Linked DNA regions of Homo sapiens. The protein of the gene in region 4 purifies or fractionates together with the protein of the main gene of each other region. This does not show direct contact. Each region holds a gene or a part of one and is shown on either strand. Other genes may lie near its edges.

Evidence for each region.
Region 1: the proteins of TMEM43 (region 4) and CUL4B purify together in Homo sapiens (affinity purification with mass spectrometry; 5 studies listed by BioGRID and IntAct, with this or other methods). This does not show direct contact.
Region 2: the proteins of TMEM43 (region 4) and BZW2 purify together in Homo sapiens (affinity purification with mass spectrometry; 4 studies listed by BioGRID and IntAct, with this or other methods). This does not show direct contact.
Region 3: the proteins of TMEM43 (region 4) and SAAL1 purify together in Homo sapiens (affinity purification with mass spectrometry; 3 studies listed by BioGRID and IntAct, with this or other methods). This does not show direct contact.

What each region holds. Positions count from the first base shown.
Region 1 is NC_000023.11:120,536,416-120,544,262, reverse strand, and holds part of CUL4B (cullin-4B), read left to right. Parts: intron 1-59; coding exon 60-149; intron 150-453; coding exon 454-536; intron 537-1,229; coding exon 1,230-1,297; intron 1,298-2,542; coding exon 2,543-2,661; intron 2,662-3,700; coding exon 3,701-3,893; intron 3,894-4,890; coding exon 4,891-4,995; intron 4,996-5,492; coding exon 5,493-5,603; intron 5,604-6,053; coding exon 6,054-6,139; intron 6,140-7,228; coding exon 7,229-7,336; intron 7,337-7,847.
Region 2 is NC_000007.14:16,690,758-16,698,604, forward strand, and holds part of BZW2 (eIF5-mimic protein 1), read left to right. Parts: intron 1-4,076; coding exon 4,077-4,247; intron 4,248-6,157; coding exon 6,158-6,304; intron 6,305-7,290; coding exon 7,291-7,429; intron 7,430-7,847. UniProt on the Homo sapiens protein: Translation initiation regulator which represses non-AUG initiated translation and repeat-associated non-AUG (RAN) initiated translation by acting as a competitive inhibitor of eukaryotic translation initiation factor 5 (EIF5) function.
Region 3 is NC_000011.10:18,102,708-18,110,655, reverse strand, and holds the start of SAAL1 (protein SAAL1), read left to right. Parts: upstream 1-4,573; 5' UTR 4,574-4,614; coding exon 4,615-4,749; intron 4,750-7,309; coding exon 7,310-7,423; intron 7,424-7,948. UniProt on the Homo sapiens protein: Plays a role in promoting the proliferation of synovial fibroblasts in response to pro-inflammatory stimuli.
Region 4 is NC_000003.12:14,120,503-14,128,372, forward strand, and holds the start of TMEM43 (transmembrane protein 43), read left to right. Parts: upstream 1-4,549; 5' UTR 4,550-4,691; coding exon 4,692-4,703; intron 4,704-7,870. Other genes in the region: CHCHD4 (mitochondrial intermembrane space import and assembly protein 40), read right to left, coding at 1,415-1,475. UniProt on the Homo sapiens protein: May have an important role in maintaining nuclear envelope structure by organizing protein complexes at the inner nuclear membrane. Required for retaining emerin at the inner nuclear membrane.

The DNA.
Region 1 (7,847 bases), on a different chromosome or scaffold from region 4:
AGGACATTTAGTAAATATTTGCTAAATAAATGATCTCCTTCATTTTGTTCCCCCTCCAGATTTATCAAGATTCTTTTGAACAACGATTTTTGGAAGAAACTAACCGGCTCTATGCAGCTGAAGGCCAAAAATTAATGCAAGAAAGAGAGGTATTTAAAAATCATGACTAATAAATTCTCACTGTCTCTCACAATAGACCTTACTTTGTAGAATATAAGCTTCCCTTTGCATTTATCTTCCCAACATTGTGATGCTCTTCTCTCACTTAGGTGCTCCTTTCTTTTCTCTCTTCTTAAAGGCCAGAATTCTGGATCATAAACTCTACCTATAAATTTTTACATATGATTCTACCCTGTCACATTTGACAGGGCCACTTCCAGGATCTTTTGGACTTGACATTTTCTGAATGATTTATGGGGAGGAAAACAATAATGTAAAAAACTATCTTTGTAGGTTCCTGAATATCTACATCATGTTAACAAACGTCTAGAAGAAGAAGCAGACAGACTTATTACTTACTTAGATCAGACCACCCAGTAAGTACCACATGCTGAATTTAATAGTCTTAAACTGTCGTTAAATCACTTGCAGCACTTTAGCCATCCTAAACATGTTAGTAACTGTTTTCAGGTGTGATTTGAAGTGTTAACAGTTGTTTTCATAATACAAACTTCAAGTTATTCTTTTCCCTAGTTAATTAGTTTTCATCCAAGGATTCGATTATTAGGGGTGTGTGTGTGTGTGTGTGTGTGTGTGTGTGTGTGTGTTTAGAAGGTAATTTAGAAATAATACTAGAGGCTGATGTGACCTTTAAACTCTTCAGGCCAATTAAAATTCAGTGGATTCCCCTATTTCTGTGCTTTCCTAAGTATTAATATTGCCAGTCGAGGGGCCTCTGTATGTAGTACTTCTTTACCTTCCTAATAAAAGTAGCAAAACTTGGAAAAAGCCGACTACAGCAAGGTCTTGGAGATATTTATTTCGTTATGTAAACCAAATTCTAAAATATGCAGTGTTTTTTTAAAATTTTTGCCTGTCAGTTCCTTTATGTCTTTTTCTTTTAGGCATAAAGTATAGTAACTCTGAGCACCAATAAATTTATACATAGGATAGGAATCTTGAAATCAACATAAAATGAGCTATTTGATTTTTTTCCCCCCTCAGGAGAGGCTTTACATTTTCTGGAAGTCAAACGTCAATAATACTAACCTTTTTTTTTTTCCTTGTAGGAAGTCATTAATTGCTACTGTAGAAAAACAACTTCTAGGTGAACACTTAACAGCAATTCTTCAGAAAGGTAATTGGCAATTTGTAAATAAGAGATTGCTTTTTAAATGGTAGTGGCAAACTAGTAGGGAATTTTTAAAGATGTTGCCCTTTTAAAAGTTTGATAGCATGTGGCTGCATTTCTGAGGATGGACACAATCCTTATTAATCACAGTAAACTTCCTGGAGGTGCCAGTTTTCTTATCTGAAAGATACAGGAACTAGAAGAGAGGGATCCACAAATACCAATAAAAAAACAGTGGTTGATATGTGCCTGTAGTATCAGCTACTTGAGAGGCTGAGGCAGGAGGATTGCTTCAGCCCAGGAGTTTGAGGTCAGCCTGGGCAACATAGTGAGACTCTCGTCTCTTTAAATAAAATAAAAGAAAAAAAGTGGGAAATTCTTGACTTAATATGTAAGCTTTCAGTAAGGAAAGGTATTCCTTTTTACACTAAAGCGGTGAGGGTTTTTTGTTGTTCATGGCATGTCAAACCAAGCACTTCTAATCCCAAGTGAATTTAGAGTATACCCTACATTTTACTTTGAGAATGCCGCAAATAGGTAAAAGCCTTACCTTTCTCCCCAATAATATTTTCTTTTGTATAAAAATTTATATATTTAGAAATTTAATGCAGTTATACTGTTATTTCATCCTGGAAATCAAATATTTATTAGAGCCTCATTTAAATTTGACCTATTTATGCATGGCTTTTGATATATCACAGGCTATATCCAGTATTCTGAAATATAACTATGTACATAATATGGCTACTACATATATGAGGTATTTATAATGTATATTTATGTAAGCCAGTTTTTATAAGTTTGTTTTTGCCTCTAATCTATCATGCTAAATGGCACAAACCATTATGGAGTTAACCATTTTTCTTTTTCTTTTTAATTTTTTTAACTTTTTGAATTAAAATAGAGAGGGGGAGGGGGTCTTACTGTTGTGCCCAGGCTGGTCTTGACCTCCTGGCTTCAATTGATCCTCCTGCCTCAGCCTCCCAAAGTGCTGGGATTACAGGTGTGAGCCACCGTGCCTGGCCTGTTTTTATTTTTATAGCGACTAAAGTCTCTATATTTAGTTTTTACCCAGAAAGATGGTTGGGTTTAATTCAAAGGAAATCTTACATTACAACTCACATACAGACTAGTCATAGTTCAAACCAGTATCACAATAATGATTATAACTCAAATTTTATTAAAATGTCTGATAATCTTGTTCACTTTTTTGTTCACTATATTTTAATGCCAAAATGTTTTAAAATACAGGTTTAAATAACCTCCTTGATGAAAACCGAATTCAAGATTTGTCTCTTCTGTATCAGCTCTTCAGTAGAGTTCGAGGTGGAGTTCAGGTTCTTTTGCAGCAGTGGATCGAATATATCAAGGTATTAACAATTTACCTGTGATTTTTCTCTCTTATGGCTTATCTACACATCAAGAGTGCATATTGGCAAGCATTTCTTGTTTGATCCAATTTTTTTTTTTTTGAGACAGAGTTTTGCTCTCGTCACCCAGGCTGGAGTGCGGTGGCACGATCTTAGCTCGCTGCAACCTCTGCCTCCCAGGTTCAAGTGATTCTCCTGCCTCAGCCTCCCAAGTAGCTAGGATTACAGGCATGCACCACCATGCCTGGCTAATTTTGTATTTTTAGTAGAGACGGGGTTTCACCATGTTGGTCAGGCTGGCCTTGAACTCCTGAACTCAAATGATCCACCCGCCTTGGCCTCCCAAAGTGCTGGGATTACAGGCGTGAGCCACCACACCCGGACTTGATCCAGTTCTTTTAAGGGAATTTTAAATTTGTTTAAAAAGTAATGGGAATTTTGAGAACAGTCAACCTGAGAATGGTAGCTGTGTGGCATATCAGCTATAAAACCTGATTGATGGCTGACATAATTTCTGTCTCTACCACTTAAAGCAGTAAATGTAGAAAAAGACTTTGAACCCCAAATTTCTTTCCTTTCTTCAATCTTACACTAAAGCCAGATTGCCATTTTAAGGAAGTTGAAAGCTGACTTCTTTAAAAATAAGGAAAAGATCCCAGAGGCTTCTAATAATACCCTGTTATGATATCATATGCCCAGTGATCATTGCTTACTATTTTTGTGATTATAGATGAGTGGTTAACAGTGTGGATATTTAGCACTTTATTTTTTTGTCCTCATTTCACTATCAGCTTTATTTTGCCAGGTGCAGTGGTACATGCCTGTAACTCCAGCTACTTGGGAGGCTGAGGCAGGAGGATCCTTTCAGCCTAGGAGTTTCAGACTAGCCTGGGCAACATAGCAAGATTCCATCTTAAAAATAGCTTTATCTTACTTTTTAAAGATCTTTAAATATATATGCCACTTAAAATATGATTTGGGGATTGTTTTCATTGTAGACAATTCGATTACAGTAAAAAGTGGTAATTTTTTGTTTTAGGCATTTGGCAGCACTATTGTAATTAATCCTGAAAAAGATAAAACCATGGTTCAAGAATTGCTGGATTTTAAAGATAAGGTTGACCATATAATTGATATCTGCTTTCTGAAGAATGAGAAATTTATCAATGCCATGAAAGAAGCATTTGAAACGTTCATTAACAAAAGACCAAATAAACCAGCTGAACTTATAGGTATGTTTTCCAGTCCTTTTTCCAGTTGTTTAATGATGTTCTTTGAGTCATAAAATCTCAATCTGAAATTTTTACCAGGTTGTAGTATTACTAATTCCTGATTTGTTTGAGGTTGCTTAGCTGGTATATCAAGTTTGAAGAGTGTTTCTAAAAACCTGGATGTAAGTACTGAAAGCCCACATGTCAAACATAATGTGCTTTCTTTCAAAGACAGTACGTTGGACACTATTTACCTTTATTGATAATAAGCTAATCTGTTTTCCTAGCCTAATGATTTAAAAATGAGGCAGGGTGTTATTTCAAGCTACAAAAAAGGGCAGCATGAAATTACAGTTGTCAGTGAAAAAGAAAAAAGTCCAGGGCAAAAATAAACCTAATAATCTGGGCCCATTTAGCATAAGGATGTGATATACACTACAGTGCTTCTCAGGTTTTTCCACCCAAGTACCCTTAGTGTCAGAGGAGGAGGTAACCTGAGAAGGTCTAGGGTCCTCTGCCAAAAGGATGAAATTTTGTTGCAACCTATCTACTATGTATCCGTAAACATGTAGCAAATTTTACCTTCTACTCTACGATGTATCTGGTTTATTTTAATAGAAAAGTAATGTTTAAGATTGCTTACTATTCCTATAAAATGGATACTCCAGAAGATTCCTCATGTCTTTTCGTGGCTTGGATTACATGATGCCCTCACAGGGCTACATGAGACCTCCCCCACAGGATATCCGTATCCTATTTTCATAAACATCAGTATAGTGGGAAGTACATTTGATCTGGAGTCAGAACACTTGGGTTTGTGTTCAGGCCCTGATGTTATTAGCTCTATGGCACTGAACAAGTCAGTTGATCTTCCTGACTTTGGAGACTTTTAAAAATGCATATAAATTTCTGAAGTATTGAAAAACTCAGTGTATCATACTCCTCTTTGGGTATATATAGTGCCCAGTACCTCGTGTATTCCCCGGTTATTAAACAACAAACTTTTCCCCCATTTTAGCTAAGTATGTAGATTCAAAACTTCGTGCAGGCAACAAAGAAGCTACAGATGAAGAACTTGAGAAAATGTTGGATAAAATTATGATCATATTTAGATTTATCTATGGTAAGTATTTACTAATGTTTTAATATTTTTCTTTTAAAATAGCACTCAACAGAGAAGCTAGCAAGTATATTCAAACTGGAGGGAATATTTATTTGGAAATTACAGATTTAAAATTGTGTTTAATTCATTGGGGGGATACGTGAGGAATGTTACCTGATTGTCCTATGCTTTGGCTCTTCTAGTATTAAGTGCCTTGATTTTTGCTACTTGGCTTAATCTCTTAAATATTGGCACCAAAGCTACCAGTCCACAAAAGCTTTTCTGAAGAAAAGTTAATGCAATCAAGACAGTTACATGCAAAAAAGTTTTACAATAAAGACTTCGAAATGTCTGGCACAAAAATGGATCTCTACTGTTTCTTGCATTTAACAAACTTAAATAAAATGTGTAAAGTAAAATAACTTGGAATAATGGTGTGCTTTATTAAAGCACTTTAAAGCAGTTTTGTCAGTACTTTTTATTGGAATATTATAAATTTTGCATTTCTTTTTACATAGGCAAGGATGTTTTTGAGGCCTTCTATAAGAAAGATTTAGCCAAGCGCCTGTTAGTCGGAAAGAGTGCATCTGTAGATGCTGAAAAATCAATGCTGTCCAAACTTAAACATGGTAGGTTTCTCATTCTTTCTGTTCCTTTTCTTTGATTCCTGAAGGAGAATGTTAGCTTTTTACCCTTTCAATCGATTTCCTCTTTTGTCACTCATGTCTATGTATATATGATGAAAACATAAATTGAGCAAGCTCCTGAGGTTTCCAACTTATTGTACATAATATCCAGAGTTGTTTTTTTTAAGATAAAGCATTGTTCTTGGTTTTATTATTTGTATAAAAATTTCCCATTTATTTTATACCTAAATAGTAGATAAGGTTACTACAGGATTAAAGAGTTTGACTCTGAATTAATGGGGCATACACTTTGGGGTAAGGATTTCTTTTTATTCTTATGAAAGTTACAGATCATACTTCATACTAAAGTTTTGTATTTCGTGTTTCCCACTTTTAAACCTCTTTTGTTTTTACCACTTTAAAATATTATACATGTACAAACATCTTTAATAGAATGCGGAGCTGCTTTCACCAGCAAACTTGAAGGAATGTTTAAAGACATGGAACTTTCTAAAGACATCATGATTCAGTTCAAACAGGTAAAAGTGAGTTAAACTCTTAATTCCTCAAACTTAGTTGTATTTAGTTATCTGCTTGCTATGATTTGTACTAAAGAGGATAAATAGAAACGTGTTTGTTGTAATTCATGGCAACTGAGGTGATATTCACAGTAGAAAAAAAAATTGGTGAAATATAAGTATATTTGACCTACTTTAGGATTTATTTTTGACAAACACCCAGAATAACACAAAAATAAAAATAAAATGTATTGAACTGAAGTCAGTACAAGAAGAGCTATAGTGGGAAAAGGGCTTTCCTCAGCATCTTATCGTTTGGTAATTTGCATGTTCAGAGCTTGCAATGGGGAGAGAGGAGAAGTGATAATGCAGCTGTATAAAAGCCTTTGGGGACATTGGGGATAGAAAGCTAGATCCACAGTTTTGAAGATGTAGGTAGAAAGTAGTTTTGAAATGTTTAAGATCATAGGTGATAATGATGGCAAATTAGATTTTCCTCTTTTGGGTTTTAGTAGTGACTTCTTTACCCCACAGTGTTGCTAAGGTGGGAAGTGGAAGTGAAAGAATTAAGAAAAAATCAGGGTCAGTAAGATTATGGATTCTATAGTAGCTACAGAATAGGGCTTATCTGCTTTGCCCTTTTCCCCTCTTTTTCCTTCCCTACTCCAGGTCACTCCCTGCAGACAGGCAGTGGAGCAAGTGAAAAACTGGAGACTTGGGCTGGCTGGGGGGTGAGGAATGGGGGTTGCTGCAAGGTGTTTAAGCCACATAGGGGTATTCAAAGGTGGGGACTGCAGGTGGTATTGGGGAAAAGAATGGAGAAGAGATCCTATAACGGCCCAGCTGTATGTGAGAAATTATTTAAGTTGATAACGCCTGTAATGAGGTCATGTGATCCTTGTATGCCTTTGTATCAAAATGTTAACCTCTGTACTTGCCTAGTGCATTTTGTGTAGGTTTCATTTAAAGTCTTCTTAATAGTTGCCTTTTATTTTAAGGATGGTCAGTGTTTGCATGTAATTTCATAACAGGGAACTTCTTAAATAGGTTATTATGATATGAAATGTATGCAGTTTTAAGATCTCAGTGTGTGTTTTGATCTTCTTATAGTATATGCAGAATCAGAATGTTCCGGGAAATATTGAGTTAACTGTGAATATCCTGACAATGGGCTATTGGCCGACATATGTGCCTATGGAAGTTCATTTACCACCAGAGGTAAGAGTTACTGTTTAGAACTGAGTTATAGGCATAGAAATCATAGCATTTCCATTTTGCTTGTCATTTAAAAATAGATACTTAGAAAAAAATAGAGACCCAGGGTCTCGCTGTATTGCTCAGGCTGGTCTTGAACTCTTGGGCTCAAGTGATCCCCCCCGCCTCAGCCTTCCGAAGTGCTGGGATTACAGGTGTAAGTCACCAGGCTTGGCATGGATACTTTTAAAAGTGTATGTCAGTAAGCGCACCAACACCAAATACCAACTGCTTTAATGTTTTACTTTTGTACTTAGAAGTCCAGTTAAGCACATAGCTAATAATGCCAAATTTCTGGGTTCAGGGTCAATTTCCCTGGCTCTTCTTCCATCTTCCCAGGTTATACCCCTCACTCTACCTAGCTATTAAGAATTCTTGCACATATTTCACCCATAGGTGGGATTGCTAAATGATGGGTCCTTGATTAAATCTATCCTGACTCCTGGTAAACTGTCTAGTCCAGGACTGAAGCCCA
Region 2 (7,847 bases), on a different chromosome or scaffold from region 4:
TGTTTTTCTAAGAAAATCCAGAAAAATATTTTGTTCTTGTAATTTCTATCTGCTCCCTACAATTTCTTTCTTCTTGATGCAGCAGCTGTGAAATGCCAAGATTTCTCCAGGTGGAATTGCTTTTACAGTTCTAGGATGAAGTGTAAAAATAAGACACAGCGCTGCCATCTCTTCACCTGGCCTGTTCTCTGTTGTTCTCTTCCAATGTGTTTCAGTGTGCAAGGGTCCAGTCCCATGAGATAATTCTAAGACTATCTCTTTTCCTCAAGAACACATGAAAGTAATTTTAAATGTAAATACTTGCAATTTAAATCACTTAAGAATACTTTGTTTCTTGAAGTTTACCTTAAATAGATTTGTGTGTTTAAAGTTTTTAGATTATGGTAAAAAAGGTACAGAAGTCTAGATTCTAGTTCATAATAATTTTCATTCCTCATGTTTCCTGAATGTCTACCCTGTGCTGGGCATGGTACCACAAGCTGCAGAGCCAGTAGAGAACAGGATAGAAAAGTTGCCTGCCCTCGTGAAACCTACTTTCTAGTGGACTTAGGGCAAATCCCTGTAAACAGAAGCAAAAGTCACAGAAGATAAGTGAATAGGTTGCTGAGGAAGGTGGAGGTTCATATGAAGGGAACATATTTCTTGTCCATGAGGCTGTGGGTTGTCTATAGATTAGCTCTATCTTGGCTAAGCCTGGCTTAGTTCCACATGCCTTTTCATTCGGGCACAGGCTGAGGGAGCAGCTCCCATCTGGGCCATTCTGTCTTCATGGCAAAGTACCAGAACACAGAGACTGAACTGAACGTCTCAAGTACCTTAAAAACTCACCTATGGACGCTGCCATGCCTGGCAATAGATTGGGAAAATCCAATCCACTAATAGGCTGCTTCTCCACCTCTGCAGATAGACATAGCAAGGAGGGGGTTCTCTTAATACTCTTTTGAAGAAGAGAAGGTGTATGATTGGGAACAAAGATACAATCTATCCGGTTATTTCTTAAAGCAGTAATTTTCTTAAAGATATTCACAACTATAGCCTGGTTAGCTTAATTAGATGGCTTCATTTATAAAATTCATTTTCTTTTTGGAAACACATGTCATTTAGCTGTTTTTACTAGGTTCTGTGTGTGTGTGTGTGTGTGTGTGTACATATGTGTGTGTTTGTGTATATATATGGAACATAGGTGGTGGTTTCTGCGAGAAACATATAAACTGGGTGAGAACAGCGTAGTTGCCTATGCACTATGCCTGCCTGATATTTGTTGAATCAACAAAAGAATGAGGAACTAGTGAGTCAGTTCCACTCTTTAGGAGGAAATTTTGTTTTATGAACATATACAACAAAATTCTCTTTAACTGTGAACTACTACATTTTAGGAAAAGTTGTGTATTACTAGACTTTAGCTATCACCCACTATTACAATACAGAAGAAAGAGCAATTTATAGCAACTCAGAGAGGTGAGGGGATGGGAGAAGCCAACCCTTATTACTGACAAAGAGAATAGTGATTAAGAAATCAAAGATATTGATCTCTTCCATTATTTATTCAATAAGTATGTATCGATTATATTATATGCCAGAAACTTCCAAGAGATGGGGAGATTGAAAGGAACCAAACCAACAGACCCTTTCCTTCATGAAGCTTATATTCTATTTCAGGAGAGTGGGCCATAAACTAAAAACCGTAAAATATGTATTATAATAAAGGTAAAAATTAAGTAGGGGCCAGGTGTGGTAGCTCACACCTGTAATCCCAGCACCTCAGGAGGCTGAGGCAGGTGGATATCTTGAGATCAGGAGTTCAAGACCAGCGTGACCAACATGGTGAAACCTTGTCTATACTAAAAATACAAAAAATTAGCCGGGCGTGATGGTGCACACCTGTAATCTCAGTTACTCGGGAGGCTGAGGCAGGAGAATTGCTTGAACCCGGGAGGTGGAGGCTGCAGTGAGCTAAGATCACGCCACTTCACTCCGGCCTGGGTGACAGAGCAAGACTCCGTCTCAAAACAAAACAAAACAAAATTAAGTAGGAAAGAGTTAAAGAGCTTCCAAATGTGGGCTGTAACTTTCAGTGGTGGAAAGCCCTCTGTGATAAGATGACATTGGTGTAAAGACTTGAGGGAGGTGTGGAGTGAACTGTTTAAATATCTCCACATAGAGCATTCCAGGCAAAGGGAATGGGAAATGGGAAGGCCTTGGGGCATGGGATATTGGGGACCGCAAGGGGAGAGCAGGTGAGAGCAAAAGTGTAGATAAGCTCAGAGAAGTAGCAAGGCCCATATCATCTAGGGCTTTGGCTTGTATTCCAAATAAGATAGAAAACTTTTGGAAATTCTCTGCAGAATGGTGTGTAATGTGATTTTGACTCTCAACAGGATCACTCTTGCTGTCACTTTGGGAATAGACTCAGGAGCAAGAGCAAAAGCAGAGAGACCTTAATCTAGGGATGAGATGATACAGATTTGTACCACGGTATGGTTTCTCTAAAAAAATACAAACCATGTTCCAAGTCAAAAAATGACATGGTATGATTTAGACGGGCTTCCCCTCAACTTAATCTGAATAATGATTTTCAATGTATTATATACTATTCATAAGAATTTGGAATGTAGTTCATAAGTGAACTACGAGTGATATGTTTAATGGCATATTGCTCTGAACATAACTTTAAATCAAACTTTGCAGTCACACTCTTCCTAAATAGAATATTGAATGCTAGCACAGAGTAATGGAATAAGTATTGACTTGGGGGCACACAGCTCTGTTCTTAAATATTTTTGGTGGCATAAATTGGGTCAAGCTGCTTAACCTTGTTGAAACTTGGTTTACCGTCTAGAAAAATGTCTGCTTTACACAGTTATTATGAGGAAAGTGCCAGTACATTTTGATTCATAGAAGAAACTCAATAAAAATACATTAGTTCCCTTCCCTGCAGATTTGGAAGATGTGGAGCAGTAGAGGAAATATCAGTGACGCAGTTTCAGTGTGGTATAAAATGTTTGCTTTATTATGAATGCGTGTTTGATAGCTGCTCCCACCAGCTCTCTTCTGACATTTTTGAAACATATGACTCAACAGGGGAAATTAATAGGATGATAGAACATTGAAATTTGAATCCTGACATAGGAGCCCTCCAGCTGTGTTCCTATAGGTGGTGGCAAACCCATTGCAGATCTACTGAGGCTCTTTCTGGAACCACATAGCCATTGGCCATATATATGCAAGTCTAACCAATACAAAAGCTTGGATATATTTTTTAGACCCTGCAGCAGTCTGAAAAATGTGAGAACTTTGAAAATCATCTTAATTTCATAGATGGGAGTTGAACTCACCCAGGATTAGATCATGACTAAGTGTTACTGAGATTCTGCCAAACTGTGTAGGGTAAAATGGAAATGAGGTGAAAATATGAGAGCAGCTATGGTATATTGCTCTTTTTGAAAATTTCCATCAGAATTATGTAATAAACTAGAGTTGGTAGGGTAGGTGTCTTAGACCTTTTCTATTACTTATAACAGAATACCTGAAACTGGGTTATTTATACAGAAAAGGAACTTATTTCTTAACAGTTATGGAGGCTAAGTCCCATGTCAAGGGGCTGCATCTGGTGAGGGCCTTCTTGCTGGTGGGGACTCTGCAGTGTCCCAGGAAGGCTCAGAGTATCACATGGCGAGGGGGCTGAGTGTGCTAGCTCAGGTCTCCCCTCCTCTTTTTTAAAGCCACCAGGTCCCCTCCCAACATAACCCACTAATCCATGAATGGATTAATCCATTCATGAGGGCAGAGCCCTTATAATCCAGTAACTCTTTAAAAGCCTCATCTCTCAGTATTGCCACAGTAGGGTCCAAGTTTATCTCAATTGCTTACCCTTTTTTTCTTTTTCTTTGTGAAACTGCCTGATTTCAGAAGATGTTTAGCTCAGTAAATATACCAGAGATTTGTTGTTTTGTAAAACAGTCTTTATTCTTTTCTTCCAAATGTGAGATATTCTAAGTGAAATGAAGACTTTTGTCCTTTATGCTTGCTGAAATTTGAATGGCTTGTTTTATAGCAGTCTTTTTTCCCTTTTTCAGGAACTCTTTCCAGTTAACAGACAGAGTGTGGATCATTTTGCTAAATACTTCACTGACGCAGGTCTTAAGGAGCTTTCCGACTTCCTCCGAGTCCAGCAGTCCCTGGGCACCAGGAAGGAACTGCAGAAGGAGCTCCAGGAGCGTCTTTCTCAGGAATGCCCGATCAAGGAGGTGGGAGACCACGGGCAGACATCACCTCAATACACATGAATGAGAGGAATTACATGGGCTGTGTAGCAAAGGCTTTCCTTAACAAGTCTGTCCTATGCTTATTGCTGTAAACTTTGTCCACTTATTCCTACCATTTAAATTAACTCAGCTTCAAAGTATTGATTTAGAATCCTCCATTTTTGTTAACACTCTAGGATGGTCCAGAAATTAATAGTGATTTCCACACAACTGACTTATTTTACCAGGCTGCTATGATTTTCAAAATATTTCATCTGTCAAAGAGATTTGACCATCCACTATCAGTATAGCCCATTATATGGTAGTTTTAAAATTTTGTTGCAGGTTATCTAACCTGATTAAGCATTTGTCTAGTGTTTGGAATTAACACTGGATTTTTTGTTCATCACTCTGTATGAATATGTAACAGGCTTTTTATTTGAAAAAAGTTTGAATTCCTGTCATGGGAAAAGACTAGTTGGATCAGTGACTTGTTTAATCCCACTCACACTTGGAAGAGCTGTGTTTCCCTATAATGTAAAAGCTATATTTTTTATAATACGCATATACATAGTTTATATATACATGCTATAGTTCACAAAGCAATGACTATATCTTTTTTTTATTTTTAGTGTATCTGGAGAGAGCTTTCTATTTGAAGTTTTAAAATCTTTCATGCAACAATTTAAAAATTAATATAAAGCGTCCTTTCTTTTTTTCCACGTGCTCTAAAATGCCTGACCCACACCTCCTTCCATGCTCCAAGCCCTGCTTGGCAGCTCACATGGTTGAAGCCTGGAGAATGTAGGACTGATACTATCCAGCAGGTGGAGGTGTTGGAATGACAAATATTCTTAAGTCTCATGGTATTAAGGATAGCAGTATATTTAATCATATTTCTCCAAGCAAGAATTTGTACATTATTTTCCATGGGGAAAAGAAGCAAACATAAAAAGCCTTGTGATGCTTGTAGATGCCAGGATGTCACACTTTTATGTGGCTTCCTCCAGCCAGCACAGGGACTGGGACTGCCCGGCTCCTTCTGCTTTTGAAGGCTGCTCAAGTCACTGCTGGCATTTCTACACTCCAGGCCAGAAGTCAAGAAAGCAATGTGTTTCCAGCAAAAAAGAAAAGGGAGGGAAAAAAAAGGTGTTACTACTACTCACAAAGTAGTATGCTGGAGATATACGATGACTTTCAATCACTTCTGAGGCCCAAACCTCTATTTATTATTTTATTTTAAAAGGAAAAAGCCTTTCAAATAAATTTTAGGCAAGCCTATATTCCATACTCTCAGGGTTGAGTATAAATTTGCATATTTATACATAATTCAAAGGAGAAAATAAGTTGCTGAATACTGCTGAATTGATGTATATGAAATTTAAAAATTGCCTTTGCACTTACAATTTATTTACAAATTAACTTTTCACTGAGATGGGGCATAAGGATCATCAAAAGTAATCATTGAAGAATAAATTGTGGAGAATGGACCTGTACAAACCCAAGATGGTATCCATCAAGAGGTTTTAAAGTTTAGGGATGGGATAAAAGTTCACAACGCTGTTGCCTTCTTTAAATCTCCAAAAAGTCAAACTGGCTCAAGTATCCCTACTCTACTAGACTCAAAGGGGTTTCTCTATGAGGAAACAAAAATCCTCTCTTACTCCACATTATCCAGCAGCTCCTGGCCAGAGCTAAGCCTATTAATTTTGGGACTAAAAATAAATTTGCTTTGAGAACAAATCATTATAGTTTTTCTCCCTCTTCCAGTCTGAGAATGCAGACAAGGAAAGGAGAAGCTAAGCAGATTGTTTCTTAGCTGCCCCAAAACCTTGATTGACTGGGCAGCTAGCGGGGAGATGGGAGCCCTCCATCTGCCTGTTACTTTCTGACCCCATTTCCATGTAATGTAGGTGGTGCTTTATGTCAAAGAAGAAATGAAGAGGAATGATCTTCCAGAAACAGCAGTGATTGGTCTTCTGTGGACATGTATAATGAACGCTGTTGAGTGGAACAAGAAGGAAGAACTTGTTGCAGAGCAGGCTCTGAAGCACCTGAAGGTAACAGCCCTTAGCAAGGAACTGACCCAGCCAAGGGCAAACTGCAGCTTTTTTTGTTTGTTTGTTTGTTTGTTTGAGAGTGCAGTGGCACGATCTGCGCTCACTGCAACTTTGAACTCCTGGGCTCAAGCCACCCTCCCTCCTCAGCCTCCCAGGTAGCTAGGACTACAGGCGCGTGCCACCACGTCTGGCTAATTTCTTCATTTTTTGGTAGAGATGTAGTCTCGCTGTGTTGCCCAGGCTGGTCTTGAACTCCTGCATTCAAGCTATCCTCCTGCCTTGGCCTCCCAAAGTGTTGGATTGCAGGCATGAGCCACCACGCCGGGCCCAAATTTGTCTTAATTGAGAGTATGACAAATGGGTTCCAACTACAATTACCCTAGACTCAGACTAAACATATACTTCCTAATTTTTTTCCAAGTTTGCACCCAGCGTTCATGAGAACATAGCAGTGAGTAAACTGTCCATGTTACTTTGATCAGGGAAGGCCCTTTGGAAGAGATAAGTATTGAATTGAGTAAGTCTCAGAAAAACAATGGCTATGCCTCAGTGTCAGAAAGTCAAGGATATTTCTAAATGAATGCTTTTTATCCCAGCAGCTCATCAAGATTCCTTCCCTGTACCCACTAAGAGACCAAATATGAGAATCTGCCTATATTAAAGATAATTGCTGGCCTGCTATGTCTAAGGGATATTTCGAAAATGAGGTCATATCCTCATAGAATATCCATTGTATTATTGGACTGTGGCTCTGCCATTGAAAAAATGTGAATCTTCTTCCCAGTTCCCTCACAGGTCGACTATACTGCTTTGTTCCTACTGTTCTGTTCCCCTCACCCCATTGGGCACAATATGATGATAAAAGGTGTCAATCCTGAAAGTCAGTCTTTTCTAAGCAACCCTCCAGGTTACTGTTATAGTTCCAGCAGTGTCGGCTCTGTACCTCCCACGCAAGTGACGGCTTTTACTCTCCACTTCTGTTCTAGCAATATGCTCCCCTGCTGGCCGTGTTCAGCTCCCAAGGCCAGTCAGAGCTGATCCTCCTCCAGAAGGTTCAGGAATACTGCTACGACAACATCCATTTCATGAAAGCCTTTCAGAAGATTGTGGTTCTCTTTTATAAAGGTATCCATCCACGTGCCACTGCTGTGCTTCTGTGTTTTGCTGAAGCTCTTTGAGAGGCAGAGCAGGCAATGAGGCAGAGGAGGTCATGGGGCTCTGTTTAGAGAGGGACAGCAAGATGCTAATTTGTGAAAGTTTTATTGAGGCAACCATACCATGTAGAGAGAGGAGGCATACACGCCATATATGCGTTGCCTTGGAAACCCTGCTTAGGCCCCTGGGCACTTCTCATTGGTAGATGAACTGGTAATTGTTTCTTGGGGTTGGTGGAAAAAAAATGTAATTATATAAAATTGAGCCTGTTTTTGAATTGTAAGGATTAGCTCTAATAACAATGATTATCAAAATAGTATATATATTATGTTCAGACTCTTTTAGGTACCATAAATCTGACTTTAAAATTACTGAAGTAATTAGCCTT
Region 3 (7,948 bases), on a different chromosome or scaffold from region 4:
CCATGAGCTACCCTAGTTAGTAATCTATGAATCTCATATCAAATCTGTGTGTGTGAGGAGCAATAAGGAGCTGAGAAAAAACCAGCAAGATGGAGGAGGTTGCATCGCTATTCAAGGGAGCTGTGGAGAGGCGTCTCCAGCGATGGAGGTGGTATATGTGAAGAATCCACAACACACATACACAGAATCAGCTTCAAACACCTGCTGGGCCCAAAGAACATGAAACCATCTTATGAAAACACCAGTCAAGTAAGAATTTTCCTTTCCCTCCCCTCTCACTTCCAATCCTTCCCCCCTAATCGGGGAGAGGTCAGAAAGAGCAGCTGTCTATCTGTGGGAGGAGGAAGCAGGGAAGGAAACAAAGTCATCACCCCCCTCCAGACTGAAGTACCCATCTATAGTGGGCTTAACTAGGAAAGGGGAGAGAAATTTTCATTTTAAATGAATTGGAAGCTTCAAATCATGACTTGGACCTGGACTTTCTAGTTACCATTTTGAGATAAACTAAATGCCATCAAACCTGTGGCTTTAAATTACTACCTGTATAACACTGTTTGTTTTGTTTTGTTTTGTTATTTGAGACAGAGTCTTGCTCTGTTGCCCAGGTTGGAGTGCAGTGGCATGATCACCACTCACTGCAGTCTCAACTTCTTGGGCTCAAGCTACCCTCCCACCTCAACCTCCTGAGTAGCTGGGACTACAGGTGCTCCCCACCACACCTGGCTAATTTTAAAAAGAACATTTGTAGAGACAGGGTCTTACTATGTTGCCCAGGTTGGTCTTGAACTCCTGGGCTCAAGTGATCCTCCCACCTTAGCCTCCCAAAATGCTGAGATTACAGGCATGAGAACACCGTACCTGGCCTGTACAGTACTTTCAATAACCTTTGAGTAACTAGGGAAGGCATGAATTGACTTGTGTTCAGGATCAAAGTGAGAGATATTGGGACAAAAAAAAAGAAAGGAAAAAAAACCTGCTTTCTGGTTATAAAATGTAATTCTGTTTGATTAGCACACTGATGACATTGGAGAGTGTGTAATAACTAAGGATTATGATTAATCCAATTCTGTGCACCTGAGATCCAAAGAGAAAAGAAAAAAAACAAAACTCATGGAGCCTAGCTGTGAGTATCAGACTCAAATAAAAGTTGAGAAGACATTGGGAGGTTATCTCAGTAATGCCAACAACTTACAAATGAATTTTAGACTGGCCTCTTTCTTTTTTTTTTTTTTTTTTGAGACAGGATCTCACTCTGTCACCCAGGCTGGAGTGCACCGGTGCGATTTCAGCTCACTGCAACATCCACCTCCCAGGCTCAAGCCATCTTCCCAGCTGGGAATACAGGTGTGCGCAACCATGCCTGGCTAATTTTCATATTTTTTGTAGAGACCAGGTTTCTCCATGTTTTCCAGGCTGGTCTTGAACTCCTGACCTCAAGTGATCAGCCCACCTCAGCCTCCCAAAGTGCTAGGATTATAGGCATGAGCCATCGCGCCCAGTCCTGGCCTCTTCTTTTTAAAACTCATTTTTATTTTATTAAGAATAAAACAAATAATATACCATGAGTATATGTCAAAATTTAACATAAATTATATATCATAAACCAGCAAGTATTGAATTGTGGACTCACATCAATATGATGGTTGGTAAACATAACCTATATGTGTGTATATGATAAAAGAAATGAGTTGGGAGGCCGAGGCGGTGGATCACGAGGTCAGGAGATCGAGACCATCCTGGCCAGCATGGTGAAACCCCGTCTCTACTAAAAATACAAAGAATATTAGCCAGGCGTGGTGGTGGGCACTTGTAGTCCCAGCTACTCGGGAGGCTGAGGCAGGAGAATGGTGTGAACCCGGGAGGCGGAGCTTGCGGTGAGCCGAGATCGTGCCACTGCACTCCAGCCTGGGCGACAGAGCGAGACTCCATCTCAAAAGATAAATAAATACATTAATTAATTAAAATAAAATAAATAAAAGAAATGAGCTGGGTATGGTTGCTCATGCCTGTAATCTTAACACTTTTGGAGGCTGAGGTGGGAGGATCACTTGAGATCAGGAGTTGGAGACCAGCCTGAGCAACACAGGGAGACCTTCTGTCTCCAAAAAGGTAACTCTCTGCAAGCCTGACTGCTGAAACTGCCTCTTGTAAACGGAGACCAGTTTTATCTAACAACTGCTGAAACAACCTACTGTGACTCTAAGACTAATTTTACCTGCTGCCATCTCTCACCAATCCTAGCTTGCAAGCTCCCCCAAACCTTACTAAAACCAATAAAATTTCTTTCAAAACAACGTGTAACATTTCTCCTTTTTATAAAAGCCCCAACCTTCTCTTTGTACTTCAGATATATTGAAGACGCCCACCTGTCTCATCTGTGTGTATGCCCTGAATTGTAATTCTTACTTTCTAAATCAATTGCTTTAAATTTAGAGATTCATCTCTATGTTTTGTTTGACTTTGACGTAAGTATCACAGTAATTCTAGGCAAACATTGGACACCTTCATTATGTTTTCTAATATAGTTATGACTGAGTATTTAAAATATTCATGTGGACATTTTATTTTAAATAATTTCGGCCGGGCGCGGTGGCCCGCGCCTGTAATCCCAGCACTTTGGTAGGCCGAGGCGGGCGGATCACGAGGTCAGGAGATCGAGACCATCCTGGCTAACACGGTGAAACCCCGTCCCTACTAAAAATACAAAAAAAAAATTAGCCGGGCGAGGTGGCGGGAGCCTGTAGTCCCAGCTACTCTGAAGGCTGAGGCAGGAGAATGACGGGAACCCCAAGGGGCGGAGCCTGCAGTGAGCCGAGATCGCGCCACTGCACTCCAGCCTGGGCGACAGCGAGACTCCGTCTCAAAATAAATAAAATAAATAAATAAATAAATAATTTCATGTCTCCATTCCTGTTTGGTCATTATATTGATATTTTTGAAATTTCATGTGGAAGTAGCTTATATCATCTATAAATTTAATTCCATTAAATCAAAGTGGGTACTTGTAAATCAATTCCATCATAGGTAATTTTTTTAGTTTAATGTTTACGATTCTTATGGAGAAAGAAGTGTTTTTCATTTACCTTTGCATGGGTGCTTAAAATACACATTTCTATTTCAAGATGACACTGAAAAATTCTTCTAATATAACAGCAGCAAAAATGTAATTCTGCAATTACAAAAGTGCTAAACTGAAATCCATAATTAAGGTTTTCTCATGTTTACAATTGTGGTTCTTTAATCAATACTAATACTATGCAGGTCTGTTGTAAGGTTTCTAGATTCGGTTTAAACACACGCACACAATACTGTCAGTTGTAGGAGGCTTTACAAGTTATATTTCATGCACTTTTTTTTAAAGAGTTCTAAAAGAGCCAACCAGTCCACAAGACAGACAGAAAAAAAGTTAAATTAACTGGAGTAAATTGGACTCTTAACATTCGAAACATGCAAGATTCTGCAGCAAACTGGGAGTACTTCAGGATTGGCCTGCTATCTTCCTTAGTATTAATTTCATCTTAACAGTTTAAGAAGTTGGACATTTTAACACCATCAAGCGCATTTAGGTGACGTGTTTCTTGTGTGTTAACTTGGCTCCCCGGAATGATCTAGTTAGTGAACTAGTCACTAATAATTTGGTCACCAGGCAAATCAAGCCTACACGAAAGGAAGCGACTATTCAAAATACCGTAGTATCATCTGAACCTACCCAAATAATTTATGTTCAACATAAACATGTAACTTCAATAATGAGATGACTCATTAATGAGTCAAGCTCCTCCAACAAGACAAAGACAACATCTCTTCTTCTAAGGTTTAAGTTTTGCATAGAAATCCGGATACATGGAATAGCCCATACCAACAGTCATTGCTCCTACAACAAAGCTGGACTGCCACACGCATGTGGATCAGGTGACGTGATATTTTAGTATTTCCCCTGCTTTTCAATTTGTATAATCCGTATGCAGCAACTACTGCAAAACCTGCCATTCCAATGGGGACAAATGGTGCCTCTTTAGTTTTTCGAATCACTTTGGATCCCTGGAATCCCTCACAAGCCATCCAGCTTCCCCTACGGATATTTTTAGGAATGGCAACAGTGGCCAGAGATCAGAGGATTATATTATTAGGGTTATACAACTTTTATATAAAAAAAGTGGCTTCTGACCAGGCGCGGTGGCTCACGTTTGTAATCCCAACACTTTGGGAGGCCGAGGCAGAAGGATTGCTTGAGCCAGAAGTTCGAGACCAGCCTGGGCAACATAGATCAGAAGGCGAATAGAATAAGTCCGCTAGCTTTGAGATTCACATCTGTTCCTGAGGCTTCCTCACTGCTCCCCACCCTTCCTTCTTCAATCAGTCTAAGAGCTCCTGGAGAAATGGAACACCTGATTCAGTGAGGGTGACAAATAATTATGAGTATGTTCGTGCCAGGGTCCTCGATAGGATGGGGTGGGGGAGGTCAAGCCGCCTTGGCAGCTGGCCAGGCTCCGAACAGCAGATGGCGCTGTAGGGGGAGTCCCACCGGGTACGCCGGGCGCTCTGGCACTAGGGCGCCGGTCGTCTCCTCCGCAGCTTCCGGCACGGCCTTCAAGCGCGGGACGCGACAAAGTCATGGACCGCAACCCCTCGCCGCCGCCGCCGGGTCGCGACAAGGAGGAGGAGGAGGAGGTGGCCGGTGGAGACTGCATAGGGAGCACGGTCTACAGCAAACACTGGCTCTTCGGCGTCCTCAGCGGACTCATCCAGGTGTGGAAACTCGCGCCACGCGTGGGGTGTCCCTACATCCCCCAGGCACCGGGGCTCCGCCTCTGGCGAATCCTCCTGCCCCGGGAGCCGCCATCCCCACAAAGACCCCTCCCCAGGCGTGCGCTGCGGGACCTTGCTCCTTGCGTTTCGCCGGCCGCTGCGGACCCCAAAACTATCTGGGCCCCCTCGGGGTCTCTCGACACAAAGGGAAGTATAATGGTAGGGATGCTGAAATACTTGCCGTTCTATTTTGCTTTCCCAAGTTCTCCAAAAATACATGATCGTGTAACTGCATTCCTCGGGTTTTGCTCCCCATCCCCACTGTCATTTCTGAAGCCCAGGTCCTTAATTTATGTATTTCATGGACTATCGTTGTAATAGAATAAATGGTGACTTTAGGGTTATACAACTTTTATATTAAAAACGTGGCTTCTGACCAGGCGCGGTGGCTCACCTCTGTAATCCCAACACTTTGGGAGGCCGAGGCGGAAGGATCGCTTGAGCCAGGAGTTTGAGACCAGCCTGGGCAACATAGACCTGGTTTCTACAAACTTAAAAAAAAAAAAAAAAAAAAGCCGGTCGTGACGGTGCACGCCTGTAGTCCCAGCGACTCAGGAGGCTGAGGCTGGAGGATCGCTTGAGCCTGAAGTTGGAGGCTGCAGTGAGCTATGATCCAGCTTCTGCACTCCAGGCTGGGGGACGGAGTAAGACCCTGTCTCAAAAAAACAAAAAACGCAGCTTCCTTACCCACTAGCTGCAGGTCACCTAACGGCTCAGAACCTCTATTTGTCCCTTAATTTCTATAAAATGGGATTATAATATTTATATTATATATAAGGTTATTGTGTAGGTTAAGTGAGATTATAATGGCAACAGAGTGCTTAGCATGGTGTTTGGCTTATAGGAGGCTGTCAGTAAATGTGTTTTCTTCCCCCCATGTTTCCCTAATTGGTTCCTCTCCTCCTATTGTCTATCCTCTCCAGTCAATTTTCTACACAGCTGCCAGAATAATCTTCTTTAAAGACAGGGCTATTCATGATACTGCTCTTAGTTCTTTTTGCCTGGGAGAAAAATGCATGTTTCTTGAAGTTTGGAATCCAGGGCTGTTTGTACATTTTCCAGCCTCATCTTCTCATGATACACTGTGTTCCATCAACTCTGAACTGTTCACCATCCCCAAACATGCTAGGCCCTTTCTTAACTCTGAACTCTTGTGCTTTCCTCTGAATACTCACTTCTCTCCTTCTTCACATGACAAACTACTATTCTTCCTTTAAAATTTAGCTTAAATATCAGCACCTAAGGGAAGGTTCCCCATCTTCTCCTAGGAATAGGTCATTGGTCCATCGTTTTTGCTACCAGAACTCTTTGTCCACAATTCAGTTGAATCACTTTGCCTTTTCTAATATGACTATCCCTTTACATGTCTTTCCCCACTAGATCCTAAAAGTTAAAAAAAAAAAAAAGCTTAAATGTAAGGGATTATATCTTACTTGTCTTTGTATATCTACCCCAGTGCCTAGCAACAGTATTTACTTTGTGAATGTTGAAAGAGTAGATCTACCCAAGGTACTACATTTTTAAAAGAAGATTTTTGCAAGAGAAGATACTTTGCTGATAGCCTCTTTGTGACTTCTAAACGATTATGGGTTAATATTAAAGTAAGTGCTCACTTAACATCAGTAGGTTCTTGGAAATTGTGACTGTAAGCAAAATTACTGATAATGAAACCAATTTTACCATAGCTAATTGATATAAACAAGAGTTAAGTCCCTGTGGCATATTTCTGGACACAAGAACATCACCAAACTTCTAAATGAGGACCTAAAACACTTCTAATATTAAACATTGAGATAAATGTGAGCTATAATACGTTTAGGAAAGGTTAATAAAAACAAGATAATTATTCACCCAGTTTTGGTGAGTTAGTGAGTGATGGTGGTTGTAGTGATTATCACTACAACCTTTATTCTTTGATTGTGTTAAATCAAGGAATAAATGTTTACAAAGCAAAAATGATCACCTCTTACTACTGTACAGTCCAAAAACAATAACAAATAAGGCAGGCTTACTGAGCACTTTCCTACCACATAATTATTGTCACGCATCTCTATGGTTATTGTCTTCTTTACAGATTTTTGTTTTATAATAATTTGTATTCATCCATTTCCCAACCCACTTGCTCTGGTTCAGGGTTGAGGGTGGCTGGAGCCTGTACCAGCAGTTCAAGGTGCAAGGCAGAAACCAGCCCTGGACAGGATGCCATCCCATCACAGGTACACACACACCCACACTCACTCAGATTGGGACCATTTAGATACCCGTTGTGCTAATGTGCAAATTTGGGGGATGTAGGAGGAAACTAAAGTACCTGGAACAGACTCATGCACTCTTGGGGAGAACATGCAAACTCCACACAGACAGTGGCCCTGGCCAGGAATCAAATTTTTTTCTCATCAGCGTTACGAGGAAATGTTATTTGATCACCTGCTGTATTTGGGTACCTGGTTAGTATTGTAGACAACTTTTATTCATGTTTTCTTTCTTTGTGTTTCTGAAGATTGTTAGCCCTGAAAACACCAAATCTAGCTCAGATGATGAGGAGCAGCTGACGGAGCTTGATGAAGAAATGGAGAATGAAATTTGCAGAGTATGGGATATGTCAATGGATGAGGTATGAGGCTGGAAACAAAACTCTGAAGACTGTTGGGTGAGGAGATGGTGAATGAATGTTTTAAAAACGGTTCAGTCCTTCACTCTGGGGAAAGGCTTTATCTCCTGTCTGTAATCACACCCATATATGATATAGGGAATGAGATCCCAGGGGCTATAAATGCTAAACTTCTGTCTTTGAGGCTGGAGGATTTGAGCTCTCAACAGATTCGGACTAAATACGTAGCTCTTATGAATGTATTCCTATACACATGTAGGCCGGGAAAGTTCTGATACTTACCTACCTAAAGAGAGCTCTGGCCATATATTTGACAGCAGGTTAGGAGTTAGAAGACCACTGATATACCATGATAATATTAGAAGGAAAGGACAATAAATAATTATATGTCTGTAATTGCAGTATTAATCATAGTGTTTTAATATCTGTATTTTATTCTATAGCTCAAAAGCATTTTCATATATAGTATTCTATTTGATCTTCACAATAACCCTGTGATGTAGGTAGTACCCTTATTTTACAGTTAAG
Region 4 (7,870 bases):
TTTCTCCCTGCTTTCACCTCCTGCTCAGATGCCACCGTCCCTGACCACTGCCCATCTCCCTTATCCCGCTTTATCTTTCTCCAAAGTGCTTTTCGTCACCCAACATACTATGTATGTTTACCACTTGATGCCCCCACTGGAATGTCAGCTCCTCAGAGGCAGTGATTTTTGTCTATTCTGTTCATTGCAGTATCCTGAGAGCCCAGAATAGTACCAAGGACAAAGTGGGTGTTCAATATTTGTTGAAAAAAATGAATGGAGAAACAACTCTGGATTAGGGCTTGAAGACCCAAGTGTAAGAATTAAAGAGGAGAGAAACACGAAGGGTGGCTTTTCAGTCAACAGGGACAGGTTTATTTTAAACAAACCTGAGAGGGGCTGCTGGCTGAGTTAGGTCAGAGCCACACTCTCTTACAGACTAAGAGTTTTTAAGGATTCAGGGTGGGAGAGCTTATCAGTGGCTTGGACTGCTTCTGTGTCTCTTTGTTGTGCTTATCTGGGAGGCAGACTGGTGTGTCTGTTTCCATACATCTTTCTGCAGCTGCAGGCATATCCCCCCAAGACTGCTTTTAGCTTCCCTATCTTAGTACACCTGAAGGGAAAGGAATGTGCTTATTAAGGCCCACAGTTTTACTGGGGCCCATTGTATGAGGGTGAAGTTTGGCAGTCACCCAAGAGACTTTCCCCCCACCTCCCTCTGTGTCCCAGCTGTCTTGTCTGTGTTTTACTGTCTGCTCTTTCTGGCTGCTTGTAGTTAGAAGAGAAGTGACTTCCTTGAAATGCATGAGGCTAGAAAGGGAGCTGGAACTTAATGTGCCAGTGTTTGTCCGAGATGACGCTACTCCTGCTCTGTCACCCAGTCCCAGCAGAAAGCAGGAAGACAGAATGGTTATCACCATTAAGTGAGTGAGACCAAAAAATCCCTTGGATGAGTAGTTTGATTTCCCCCATGAAAGGGGAGGATCTTTATACACCAGAATCTCTCAGCTCATCCACCCCAGAAGGAATGCCCCTGTGTCCTGCAGAGGAAGCAGTTTATTGTCTCCCATGGATGCTGACTCCCCAGGGTCATGTTTGAGAATGGCAACCTGCACTAAGGACTTATTTTCTTTCGTTTTTGGCTAAGTTGATTCAATACACCTGTGATACAATTCCAACCACTACTTTCTGAAGCTCAACCCAAGAAAGAGATCTAAAGCCAGAGGGAGTGGTGCCTGTGGTGTATTTTGAGTGAGGTAAGGGGTTTCTAAGAGTTTGATAAATCTGACTGCTAAGGACTTTCATGTTTAGAATCTAACCCCTTTGAAAGATACAACTCCCCCATACAGAATCAAGTGTCTGTGAAGAATACACAAATGGCTTTCAGACAGAGTGTTAAGAAGAATGCAAGTGTTAGAAGTTTAGCTCAACAAACCTTCCTCAGCTCCAGCTCTGTGGTAGTACCTGGTGGTCACAGATGAATACGACACAGGCATCCAGTGGAGAAGACGGAAGGGGAGGGATCCTACCTTTGTCCCTGACAAAGAGCTTCAGGGAGGGAAGGAGGGGAATAGACATTCCAGAAGGAACCATCCTGGGCAAAGCCTGGAGGGCAAAAGGAGGGTTTTAAGTAGTGTTCGCTCACACGTGTTTAGGATTGCAAAAGGTTTTCTTAAGAAAGTGGCATTTAAAAGGATGTCTGAAGCCTCAGGAAGCCTTCTCAGACCCCATAGAGCCTTTCACTAAACGATCATAGCATGCTGGGCTTTTCCTTCATGTCACCTATGACAGTCTGTAATCATGCATTTGTCTGGTGATGTTTTAATGGCAATCTGTTCCACCATGCCAGGAGGGCAGAGAATGTGTCACCTTGCTCACCACTATATGCCCAATGGCTGGCACATCACGTGTGCTCTATAATTGTTGACTGAACAGGAGTTGGCAGGCTCTGCATTAGAAAGAGGAAACTAAGAAAGAAACACTATGGTGCTGACACAGGAGAAGTGTGGCTAGCCCAAGGCCCAGGTGCGAGGCTGAGAGCCCTTGAATGCCAAACCAACGAGTTTAACCTGAAGGCTGGGTAGCAGGTGGACCCCTGAAATAAACTTGTACAGGCAAGTGATTCACTCAGAACAGAGGGCAGGTAAATGCATGATTCAATAAAGATGTGGGCACCCATTGTACACCAAGCCCTGTGCTAGATGCTGGGGATTCCACAGCCCATCTGATGCTCTCAGCTTAGTGCGAGAAGACAGGCAGGAAGTAAGATGGCAAAAAATAAAAAAGGTCATTTCAGACAGTTCAGGATGTGAAAGACACAAAGGGTCAGGAGGTGATATTGGAGCTAAATGTTAAAGGATGAGGAGTCAGCCACGGAAGAGCTGAAGGCAGGATATACCAAACCAAGGGAATAGCCAAGAGGCTAGAGGCTGGGCAGCAAAAGGGTGGGAAGAGACCAGGCTGGAAAGGCAGACAGGGCCAGATCACATAAGCTCTGATACAGTAAGCAGTTTGGGATCATTTTTTAAAAATCCTATGGGAAGCATAAAGGATCAGTGGGGGGCGGAGGGGGGGAAGTTAGGGACTTCTTACGGGGACAGTGGTATGCACAAGATAAATACTAAGGAAGGCCTATAAGTGAGTGCTTTCAATTCTCACTCCTCTCCGAACTAAGAGAGATCTTTGAAGCAGGAAAAGATAGGGCTCCATGTTTTGGAGGCAGATGGACCTAGCCTCCCCTTTCCAGAGAAAACTGCCTCCTGTAAATCCTCAAAGAGGAGGGTCTTGTTTATCAGCACAGCCTCATTATACCCAAAGGCTCAAAAATTATTTGCTAAATGAAGTAAATTAGAGAAAGACTCGAAATTAAAAACAAGAGTGGTGAGGGCAGAGGACTTTTGCTTATGGCACACATTAAGTAGTAATCAGCGGAAATATAATAGTACTCATTAAAGAGTGAGTCTTATGGCTTTACGACCCAGAGGAGGAGAGGTTCTAGAAGCAGACAGCGCCACCAGGGAAAAGGCTCAGAATTTTAGGCTGAGCTAGTCTCCTAACTGGATGTGTAACTACAGGTAGGCCACCTCCTTCTCTGGGCTTCAGATTGCTTGAATTAACTGACGGAGCTGGAGTATTCACCAAAGAATTTCTGGGGGACTTCCAACTCTCTCTGTAGTTTTATAACCATCCATCCCCCTTCTCTGGCGCAGAGAAGGTGCTTCATGAGTATTTGCCGTATCAATGAAGCCCAACATCTCATTTTACAACACTGGATACCAGGGCCTGGAGGGGTTAGGTGGGAGCTCAGGGCCAAGGAGCCAGTTTGTGGCAGTGTGTGGGGAGGCCCTCCGACCTGTGGCTCGGGTACTTCTGAGCTCTTGGGTAGAGTAACATCAAGGAAGCAGTAGGTGGTCGGAGCTCAACTTTGGGGTGGGAGGTAGGCAGGGTTCTCCCTGCAATCCACTGGGCACTAGATTGGATAAGGCTCTTCTGGGGTCACAATGCCCAGGCTCAAACCCCAGCTCCACGATTTGCTGGCTGAGTGGCTTTAGCCATGTCTCCTGTGTCTAACTTTACTCTTCAGTAAAATGTGACCAACAACAGAGCCTGACTTACAAAGGTCGCAGCGAGATCTGTGAGACAAGCCAGGCAAGTTTCCTTGAACAGTGCCTGACAGGTAGCAGGGGGCTCAAAAACATTCCCGTTAGTGGAACTCCTAGCACTCCAGCACAGCACACGCTACCCCGAGTGGCAACTTTTCGGGACGCGCCTTTTAAAGGCGCGTGCAAAATGTAAACACGTGGGGTATGGCAGGAGCGGTAGTGATAATTAACCACCATACATTCCCAGTTTCGAGCCACACGCAACGTGCTCGGCACTTCCCGTGCCCCAACCGGACCTAGTTTACGACTTCCTACGCACAGGCCCCTCTGAGGTCAGGGTTCGGGCTTCACTGTGACCTTGGACCAGCCCCGTTCCCCCCAGAGCTTCGGTTTTCTCATCCGCAAAACAGGAGTAGCGACCCCCCAGCCGGCCCGCCTCCGAGTGTCCCAGGGTGGGCACCTGGGCCGCGCCTCAGGTGGCCCGCGCCCGGCGTGGTCGCGGGGCGCCGGGGCCCGCGTGTCTCCCGCAGGCCCTCGTAGGCCGGTCTCCGTGGCAGCCCGCCCTCCCTACCTTCCTGCCGGCAATAGGACATGGCTGCAGCCCGTCCCTGAGACCTTGCAGAAGCGGCGGTGGCGGCAGCTGCACCTTTACGCCGTGACCTCCCTCTCCTCTGGCAGGGCGGGCTCCTCCGAAGCCCGCGCGGACCCGCCCCCTCCCAGGCCTGCCCGCCGCGCGCCTGCCTCGGCGCCCTCGCAACCGCGGCCAGGCCAACCTCAGCCGGAAACTACATTTCCCAGCAGGTCGCGCGCTCCTCGACAGCTCTCCAGGCAGTAGAAACTACATTTCCCCGAAAGCTTTGCAGTGCGCAGGCGCATCAATGAGGTACTGCAATGTCCCGGACCGTATAGTTTCCAGGACGTCTCGCCGCGCGCATGCGCAGAAACACTGGGCACAGGGGGAGGTAACTGCAGTAAGTCCCGCTTGGCCCTGGAGTCCACGCGGATTTTCGAAGCTGGGGCTGGCAAGAGGCCGCTGGACACCACGCTCCAGTCGTCAGCCCACTTCCTAGCTGAACAGCGCGAGGCGGCGGCAGCGAGCCGGGTCCCACCATGGCCGCGAATGTGAGTATCCCCGGGCCAGCCGGGCCACACCCAGGCTTCCCCGTCGCCCTGGGGCTTTTCCCCGGGGTCCTCTAGGTCCATTTCGCCGCCTGGAGCTCCTCCGTGCGGCTAGGCCCGCATCTCCCTCTGCTCGCCGTGTCTGTGCCTTCGCCAGCTCATCCCTCTGCTCATCTCGCGGCCTGTCCAGGCTTCTTTTGTCCGTGTTCCTTGGCTCGCCTCGTCCTCGGCGTTCGTGCGGAGGCGGACTCGGAGGTGTTGCTCCCGTACTGGGATCTGCTTGTACGCCTCTCCGCGGCCCCTCCTTGCATTCCCAGTTCCCTCCTGTACCTTGGGGCCCTGAAACTTGCGCATTATGAGAGCTGGACGCGACCTCAGAGAGGGCGCCAGTCCCTTGGGAGGGAGGAAGGCGATCCAGCCCAAGTGGAGCTGTCCAGCAATGGACAGACAGGGCTGTCCAGGCGGGCAGAGAGCTCTCCGCCCTAGGGAGTCTCTGTAAACCGAGTCTGTGATGCTCCAAAAAGCTTAGGCTGGGCTGGGAGCGAAGGAGTTGGGGGAGAGGGAGCATTTCTCTACTGTCGGGGCCCCTCCTCCCCCTAGCAAGGATTTGGTTGGAGGAGGCCTGGCTGAGGGCTGTTCCCTCAAGGCCTCTTCTCCCTGCAACTAGCCTTTCTCGGGAAACTATTTAAGCCCAACATTCATTCAACAAGCAGCGCCTCCTACCAGGGCGCTGGGTGTGGGAGAAGCTGGTGACTCACCTCTCCCCTCCTCTGTGAAAGTGCTTCTAGGGCCCGCTTAGGAGCCCAGCCAGCCCCAGACACACCCTCCCTCCTGCTTTGGTAGAGTGTCCTAGCAGCTCTCCCCTTGCCTGTCACACCCTATTTCCAGACACCGCCTCTGTCCCCAAGCGTCCTCTCTGCCTCCCACACCCCTTGAGAGGCCAGGGTGTGCATCACCCACAGCCCTAGTACACTTTGTCTCGGGTTAGTATCATCCACACTCCCAGGACATTTCGGGCCCACAGGAGGGTTAGAAGCCTTGAATGTTGTACCTAGAAAAGCCTCAGAGGTATTCGGAGAGACTCAGGCTCGGCCAGGCGAGAGGGCAGTCAGGAGACCAGCCTGTCTGTAGTATGTGGACTCTTTGTCTGCTCCCATCACTACCACCACCATATTTTACAGATGGGGAACTTCCCTAGCAGGGGAAGGCACTTGCCCAAGCTCTCGTGGCCGGCTTGGCATGCTGTGACACGGAAATATGCTGAAAAGGGCAGGCTTTGGAGTTAGGGAGACCTGGGGGCAATCCAGATTCTTCCACCCAGTAGCTGTGTGGCTTTCATCTCTCCAGGTTTATGTAGCCTCATGGATCAGTTACTGTGATATTTAAGGGAGACTGCTTAGCACAGTGCCTGATGTGTGGTAGGTACTTAATACTTGAAAACAAGCCTGTCCTTGCAGGGTAGCACAAATGGTCCCAGTGGATAGAGATCATCTTGGGTACATTGAGACCTGACCCCTCACCAAGGAATATACATGCATTTGAGTATTCTCTGCTGCCAAGCATTTTTTGATTCATCCAGTAGCTGAGTACACATTTACAGCAGCCACTAGGCTGGGTGAGGAAGAAGATAGCGGGATGGAGCAGGGAGGCAACAAAATTCTCAATCAGTACAGCAGCAGCAGTACCTGTGGTGAAGGTACTATTCCCCTCTCCACTTTATAAGTGAGTAAACAGAATCAGAGAGGTAGAGCAATTTACCCAGGCTTACACAGCAAGCGATTGGTGAACCTAGGCATCAAATCCAGTTCTGTCCATTTCCAGGGCCTATGTGTCAGCCTCTGTTCCCACCACTCATTGCTCATTTCTTCTAAGTCCTGAGTGCTAGGACTGGGAGGGGATGTGTCACTGGGGATGTCCGTCTGTGTGTGCGTGTGTGTGTGTGTTTATATAATGTGTGTATACATGTAATACATACTATATGTATATATAAATATGTGTGGATATATAGATCCTTTATGATCCTCCATGTTTACTGGGAATTTTGGTTCAGAATGTGGGCTGGGTTTGTCATGTCACTGCCCACCTCACCCCTCCCCTAGCCTGAGGGGCACCCTCCTGTACCTCTCTTCCTTCCCTCCAAGGCCGTCTTTGAGCCCCTTATCTTGATGCTGGCTGAGGGGAGGCCCAAGAGGAAGACACGCCTTATTTTCCTATTGCTGCCTGCAGCTGGCTCCCAACATTCAGCTCACATTGTAGCCCAAGAGATGGGGAGCACAGACTGGAATGAGTAATGGGAGAGTAGCCTCCAGTCTGCCCGGATTTGAATCCTAACTCTTCCTCTTAGAAGCTGTGTGATCTGGGAAGATGACGTAACCCTGAGCCCGATTTTCTTATCGGTGAAATGGGGTCGTTATGACATCCCGCTCTTTGGGCTTGCCTGTGGGCTGGCCTGTGATAGACCCGGTGTGTTTGCCATTGTCATCATTGTGATGGTCACCTGCCCCTATGTGGTGATTCACTCACCTAATGTTTCCAAATGGCATGGAAAGTCAAGACGACTTCTGGATTCATGGACATCTGGTCACTGGAGGCCTTGGCTGGTGGTACTCAAAGACAATCAGAATGCGACATCAGCTTTGTTCAAGCAGAGATTCTGAGTCAAATCACTCCTCTGGCCCCCAATACCAGGATGGGGCCTGTCTTAGCTGGGCCCCACTTTACATCTTTGTGACTTTTGTCAGCTCACCCCCAGCCTGGTGCCAGCCCAGTATCAGTTGTAGGGAAATCTGGTAACATTTCTACTAGCTAACACGTGTCCAGTGCTTACCACGCCCTAGGCCCTGAGCTACCCAATAACTGTGTTCTTTGGTTCTCACCACAACCCTATGCACAGAGGAAATGGAAGGCACAAAGTGGTGAAGTTGCTTGCCCAAGACCCCGTAGCTGGTATGTGGCAGAGCATAAATGCAAACCCAGTTCTTCTGGCTCCAGAATCCTGCCCTAGACGATGACACTTTTGATCAGCAGTGGATGCACCCCAAATCATGCCTCTGTTATTGACCAAAGCCTGATCCACTCACCCTTGAGTTTGAGGCCCACTGTGAACCTGCCCAGAAATGCCTACCTCCAAGCCCTTTCTTCCTCCACTGCTCCCACCCAGCCAAAGCAGA